Linked DNA regions of Homo sapiens. Changing the gene in region 1 together with any one later gene gives a genetic interaction. Each region holds a gene or a part of one and is shown on either strand. Other genes may lie near its edges.

What was found. A genetic interaction does not mean that the proteins touch.
Region 2: changes in MST1R (region 1) and DOT1L together harm fitness more than expected from each alone (negative genetic interaction), as found in Homo sapiens cells (one large-scale study listed by BioGRID).

What each region holds. Positions count from the first base shown.
Region 1 is NC_000003.12:49,897,374-49,900,873, forward strand, and holds part of MST1R (macrophage-stimulating protein receptor isoform 1 preproprotein), read right to left. Parts: intron 1,891-3,500; coding exon 1,702-1,890; intron 1,623-1,701; coding exon 1,494-1,622; intron 1,316-1,493; coding exon 1,145-1,315; intron 839-1,144; coding exon 678-838; intron 313-677; coding exon 147-312; intron 44-146; coding exon 1-43. UniProt on the Homo sapiens protein: Receptor tyrosine kinase that transduces signals from the extracellular matrix into the cytoplasm by binding to MST1 ligand. Regulates many physiological processes including cell survival, migration and differentiation.
Region 2 is NC_000019.10:2,229,933-2,233,078, forward strand, and holds the end of DOT1L (histone-lysine N-methyltransferase, H3 lysine-79 specific), read left to right. Parts: 3' UTR 1-230; coding exon of another isoform or gene 231-680; 3' UTR 681-2,646; downstream 2,647-3,146. Other genes in the region: PLEKHJ1 (pleckstrin homology domain-containing family J member 1), read right to left, coding at 231-680. UniProt on the Homo sapiens protein: Histone methyltransferase. Methylates 'Lys-79' of histone H3. Nucleosomes are preferred as substrate compared to free histones. Binds to DNA.

The sequences.
Region 1 (3,500 bases):
CCCGTGGGCCAAAGAGGGGTTGCACTGCTATCAGCACTGGCTCCTAAGAGGACATAGAGGTGGCTTAGGCAGGTCCTCCACTCCAAGCCCCTCCCTTCCCGTACCATGCACTGGCCAAGGGCACAGACAGGGCAAGGTAGCCTCACCATGAAAGAGAAGCCTCTCAGCACGGAGGTGCCGTCTACCCGGAAGTGCTTGCCCGGTGGCATGTTAGTCACGGTGAGGCTGACGTTGGTAGGCCCCACTGCCTGGGTGCCCAAGGGCTCCAGTTCACACTCAAACTCCTCTACAAAGTCTTTCCGGGGCACTGGTCTGGGGCACCAGGGGAACCCCTGAGGTCAGCCAGGAATTACACAGGCCTAGATGCATGCCTGCCACAAGCCACAGGGCTCCTCTGAGCCAGAGAATGGCATTTCTCCACCCATGCCTCCCTCCATGGAAGGAAGGTTCTGGTGGGGCAGAGATTAACCTTGGCTGGTCCATGAGTGAACAGACAGGAAGGGCACATGAAAGCTCAAAAAGGGACAGAGACCTTTTTGACTCTCAAAAAGCAGTCAGAACCACTGCAGCTTCCCCCATCCCCCCTTGCCTCTGATAAGCAGAGAACAGGGTCTCATGGGGAAGGGGCTGCTTGGTTTCCCCCTTCAGGGAAAGGGAGGGGAGGGACCAGATTGTACCTGAGTTTTGAGCTGTCCTTGGGCAGTGGCCGGCAGGGACTTTGGCCCACAGTGACCTGATGGGTTCCCTCAGGCACCAGACCAGAAGGGTGAAGGTAGAAGTTGGAGCCACACAGGGTCAGCCTTGTACTGCCCCTTAGAGGTCCACTGTGGGGGTGGAACTGAAATGGGGGAAACAGCCTGAGTCCTCATGTGGGGTTGGGCTCTCTCAGCCCCACCTGCTTCCCCAAAGTCTCCTGCCATACCCCTTGCCTTCCCCACGCTCCAGCCATTTGGAGTCACTTGCATTCAAGCACTTTCCTGCCTCCAAGTCTTTGCATGTGGCATCCCCTCTGACAAGAATGCCCTCCTTGTAGATATGAAGGACACCCCCCAGACCTGAGAAAAATTGTGATCAAGACTTGCTGACCACCACCCCAGGCCCAGCCTGTCCCACTCTTACCTGTGCCCTGCCAGGGAAGCCATACCTCAGTAAGCTTAGGTGGGCAGTGGTCCTGTTGCCAGGAGCCAGGACACTCCTTCTGCTGGCCGCACATGTTCCCACACCAGCCACAGCCCATGAAATGCCATGCCCTTAGGCAACGCCCACAGGTCAGGAAGTGGCGGCAGCCAGGGCCTTGGATAGGTACCTGGAAAACCTGTGGGTGAAAGACAGGTGACTCAGGGGTGCCTGGAGGGAGAGATTGGGCCCTATAGACCCTCCCGGTACACAGTAGGCTAGGGTGGTAGGGCCTGTATGTCAATGCCTCCCTGGATTGGATGGAGAGTCTGTGATCCCACAACCCTGGCCCCAGGCCCTGCCCCTGCCCACCTCACCTGGTCCCCAGAGGCAAAGAGTAGGTGGTCCCCAAGACGACTGACATCCCGCTGCACGGGCTGCCCACTGTCACCCAGTGAGAAGTTGGACACATACAGCAAGTAGTTTAGTGACCTGACCAGCTCCACCTAGGACAGGTCAGATGTGAGCAAAATGGGGATGGAGACAAGGACCCAGGGCTAGGGGACTGTGGGGATGAGGACCCACCTGCAGGATACGCCCATCCATTGTGCCCATGTGTGCCACTGTGACGTTGTCAAGGCGTGTCACATACAATGCAGTGACCTGTACTGGTCCCAACAGCCCATTGAATAGGTCCACACGTGAGAAGCTGCTACTGACCAGCAGAGGGAAGTGGCGGCAGCTGGTGTTGGGGCTGAGGGCTTCCAGGCCAGGCTGGGAAAGGTCAGGGAAGGGAAGGAGTCAGGGTTCAGCCTTGTGCCCCGACCCTCTGGGGCCTTTGTCAGTGGCCACAGCAGCCCAACACTCTCACCCCTCACCTGGCCTGACTGGAGAAGGCCCTGGGCCTGCCGGTTACCATCCCACATTGCCCCCACAGGGCTCTCAGTGTAGCAAGGGCAGGGAGAAGGCCCAGGCTGGAAGGTCCACTCCTCATTCTCCCTGCCCCACCCTGCCATGCCCATCCTGATGGTGAGTTACCCCCATTCCATCCTCACAACCACCCCGTACATCTTTTTTTTTTTTTTTTTTTTTTTTTTTTTTTTTGAGACGGAGTCTCACACTGTTGCTGGGGCTGGAGGGCAATGGTGTGATCTCAGCTCACTGCAACACCTCCCGGGTTCAAGAGATTCTCCTGCCTCAGCCTCCCGAGTAGCTGGGATTACAGGTGCTCGCCACCACCCCTGGCTAATTTTTTGTATTTTTAGTAGAGATGGGGGTTTCACGATGTTGGCCAGGCTGGTCTCGAACTCCTGACCTTGTGATTAGTCCGCCTTGGTCTCCCAGAGTGCTGGGATTACAGGCATGAGCCACGGTGCCTGGCCCACCCCGTACATCTCACAGATGAGGAAACAGGCTCAAGAGGTTTGGTCTCTGGTCCAAGGCATCATAGACCCTCAAGAGGAGAGCCCAGTTGGAAGTCTCAGCTCCGCAAGAGTCTTCTCCTGCCCCCTGCTGGCTCTTCTCTGACTCTCTGTGTGCACTTCAGCAAACCCTGTCTCCTCTGGGCTTCGGTTTCCCCACTTGCATAAGGGGCTGAATGCTGGAGTTAATTGGCCAGCACAAGGTTGGGGACATGGTCCTTCTCCCTAGACTCCAAAGGTCTGCCTGTACTCCTGGCTGCTTCCTATACCCCCCTTCAGGGTACAAAAGGGATAAACCAAACCCCTACAGCCTGGGTGCCAGAACTAAGTTCTGGAAGCTAGGGGGTACTAACCTCTCCCCTGCTTTTAGCAAGGGGGTGTTTTTGGGGGCTGCAATCACGCTCCAGGGGAGGACTGTGGAAGCTCTGGGAAACCAGTACACCAGGGTATGAACTCGCGGTGTTGGAGCTGAGTGCGAGGTGCAGACGGGGCTCAGTAGCCAGCCCTAGGTGCTTAGGACTCTCTCTCACCAGCCCGGAGGGCACTCCTCGAAGCAGGAGCCTCTGAAGGCTCCATCAGACCACAGAGGCTTAACCCAGTCCTGAGACCTCAGCACTGATTAGTAGCCCTGGAGGCAAAAGTAGATGTGGAGCTGAGCCTCGAAACCCCATACACCTTGTGCCTACAGCTTGGGGTGGGTGGGGACTGGGATTTTGTCCTCACTTGAGGCAGGAAATCGGCTTGGCTTGGCCCGAGCCGGAAGGCTGCCAGGTGTTTCTAGCATGACTCAGGGACAGGTGGGGCTCTGAAGGGGAATAGAGCCCTACCTTAGTCAGGCCCACACCCTAGCCTGCTTGTCCCTAGCCCCAGGACCTTAGCTCTACGTTCCCAGGCTTAGGTAGGGGCCCCCAGCTCCTGAAAACACGTAAGTGTCCAATGTCCCATGGAGGACAGGCACCAGCT
Region 2 (3,146 bases), on another chromosome or scaffold:
GGCACGCGCCGCAGGAGGCTGGGACTGGTCCAGTTTGTACTGTCGATAGTTTTAGATAAAGTATTTATCATTTTTTAAAAAGTATAAACAATTCTGACTTATTTTATTCCATCTAAGTGGTAAAAGGCAACTTATTGAGAAATATAAATATCTATATATGAGAGCTCTATATAAAGACACGTGTCTGCAGGGCGGGCCCGCCAGCGGATTCGCCACAGCCTGCCCCGGTGCTATCTCGTCCCCAGGCCCGCGCCTGCCTCCACCCGCTTGGTGCTGACTAGACGCTGACAACGCCGAACCCCGTTCTCGGAAACGCCGCCCGGCCGGCTCCCCCGACGCGCTGCTCCCGTACCAAAGGCAGGCCCGTCGCCACCACATTCCTCGGAGGCCTCCCCGCGGCCTGAGCCCCTTCCTGAGCGCCCTGGCGCCTGCCCTGAGCTCTTCACCTTTACCCCGGCACTGTGAACCCCCAGACTGTTCACCCTCCGGGGCGTGGGTTGCGCCCTTGCATGTGAAGGGGCCTGCGCGGTGACGCAGCTGGCCATGTGCTGCGCGATGGTGCTGTGAGGACGGCGCGGGCACGTTGAACAAGTGCATTTACTTTTGTATTTCTCGGCTGTCCATGGCTCGCAGCATGCCCTGCGATGCGGGGCAGGCCTGTCGTGGGTCCCTTGGTGTTTCTGTACAGGAGAGAGTCACACTAATGAGTGGCAGTATTTTATAGAGATGTGATGAGAATTTATAAATTTCATAGATTTGACAGCTTTTATTTTTAGATGGTATAATGCACAGTGAAGAGGAAAGAAAAGCGAGGGGAAAAAACCTTATTTATTCAAACAGTGCACAAAATGGCCCCAGCGTCAGCCCCGACCCTAGACCCCTCAGTTGCAGCTCCCAGCAGCCCAGACAGAGCTGCCGGCGCCCCTGCCTGCCCCACATCCCTTCCTGTCAGGGCCACGCCTGGCACCCATCCCTTGGAGCCTGTGCTGGTTCTCCCAGCTGCTGTGGGTGTGCTGGGGCCAGGGTGCACTGCTGAAACCTGGCCTCTCTGGCCCTAGGCCCCAGGGTGACGTCGGCCCCCCACTCTGCAGCCTTGGCGGGTGCCTGGGACTGGGTGTGGAAGGAGAGGAGCTGAGGCCGGGGTGTAGCAGGCAGGCAGGGCCACTCCAGTGCTTCTGGAGCCCTGAGCAGTCAGGGCCTGGGTTGTCTGAGCAGTGGTGGCTCTGTGCCCTCCCTGGAGGATGGGATCTGGGAGTCTGAGCTCCCCGCATCTGGCCCTGGGCTGTGTGGCACTTGCTGAGCCCACCTTCTCAAGTGCTTGCTCCTGTGAGATGGCATCGGGGAGCCCCTTCCCCAAGGTGCCACAGATCCACCCTCCAGGGAGCTGCCAGCCCTGTGTTCTGGTTCCCAAGGGCAGGATGGACACACGTCACATCCCTACCACGTGGCCTCCAAAGGGAGCCACGGAGGAAAGGCTTCTGTGGTTGCTAGGTGGGGGAGTCCTGTGTGGGAGGGCCTGAAGACCCCTGCTTGTGCCTGGTGAGGGGGGTGCTGCCTCCCCCAGCCCCCAACAACCTCTCAGACCCCCACCCTCCAACATAGCTGAGTTCTGAAGATGGTGCTCCGGACCTGTCCTCTTAAGTGGTGCCCAGTGCCCTCCCCACCCCACGTTGGTGCTCTCAGCTAGAAGGTGCTGTGCCTCTGCCTGAGCCCCAAGCCCCGAGCCTGGCCTTCAGGACAGGCAGCCTGCTCTGTGTCGCCACGGGCCGGATACGCCACAGGGTTGATGGCAGAGACGGCCGAGTCCCTGGTCTAGAACAAGACACATTCTTTAAACACTGTATTACTTCTGCCTCCCTCTAGGTGACAGTGGCAGTCCGGGTGCCATCACGGGTCCTGCAGATGGCCATGCAGGGCTCCTGCCCACGCAGGCCACCGTATGTTCAGGACACGCACTGGGTCTCAGAGCCACTGGCCCAGGCAGAAGTCTCCTTGAGCCCACTGGGTCATATGCGTGTCACCACACGTGAACTAGTGTGGTGGCTGCCTGCGGACACCCTCCTGTTCTGAGCCCTGGGCCTGTGTTCTTCTCAGACACTCCCAGACTGAGGGGTGGTGTGTGGCGGGTGGCAGGGTGGCTGTGGAGACTGGGGATCTGGAGCCTGGTGCTGGCACCTGGCCTGAGTTTCCGTGGGCAGCTGGCGGGGACCTGTGCTGCTGCTGCTGACTGTGGGTGGGCGGGCGGCGCCTGGGAGTGGCTCTTGCTCAGGAATTGATAGGAACCCTAAAAACTAGGATACCCCCTCCTCGGCCCATGAGGCACGCACAGTGACTTATTTAAGACTTCCCCCTTAATTTATCTGCCCCCAGGATGCGTCAGTCTGTTCAGTGGTCAGCAGGCCCCCCACCCCCCGCCGACTGCCCTCGCCATCGTGGTCAGACCCCCCTCCCAACACAACACGCTGCTGGTCTGTGTCAGCCTTTGTAACGTGGGAGGCTCTGCCGTGTCTTCCGGGTGAACTGTATTTGGATTGCGCGCATTGTCACGGTCCGCCCCTGGGCTGCAGGCGCCCCTTCCTCTGGGCACCCCTGCATTCTGCATCCCCACCTCTAGACGCTGTAATAAACAGACTGTTTTCACTCGGACCTGGTGTGAATGGCAGCCTTTCTTCCAGGTGGCATGAGGCGTCTCCTGGCGGCCAGTGAGAGGCCCCGGCTAGTGTGTCATCGCCGAAACGGGGAGTGGAGGGCCTAGGGGTGCTCCTAGCAGAAGCTCCGGGGGCTGACACCAGGACACCCTGGCCTTGGGGAGGCTTATGAGGGCACCAGGCCACAGGCAAGGGGAGGCTTATGAGGGCACCAGGCCACAGGCAAAGTGCCTTTTGATGAACGGAAAACCAGATCTGCGACCCCAATGACATCGGCAAAGTCCTTTTCACATCAGATGGACCAAAGCCCGCCCAGGCCCCAGCCACACTCCGGGAGGGCCCGTGAATGCCAGAGGCAGGACCCCAGGTCACCACAGGATTCCTGATACCACACAGCAGCTCTGTTCTCCCCAGGCCTGGGTCCCAGCCTCCACCTGTCCTGGCTGGGGGTTCTAGCTCTCCCCTCAGTGCAGGAGGCCCAGCCACTGCCTCTCAGGA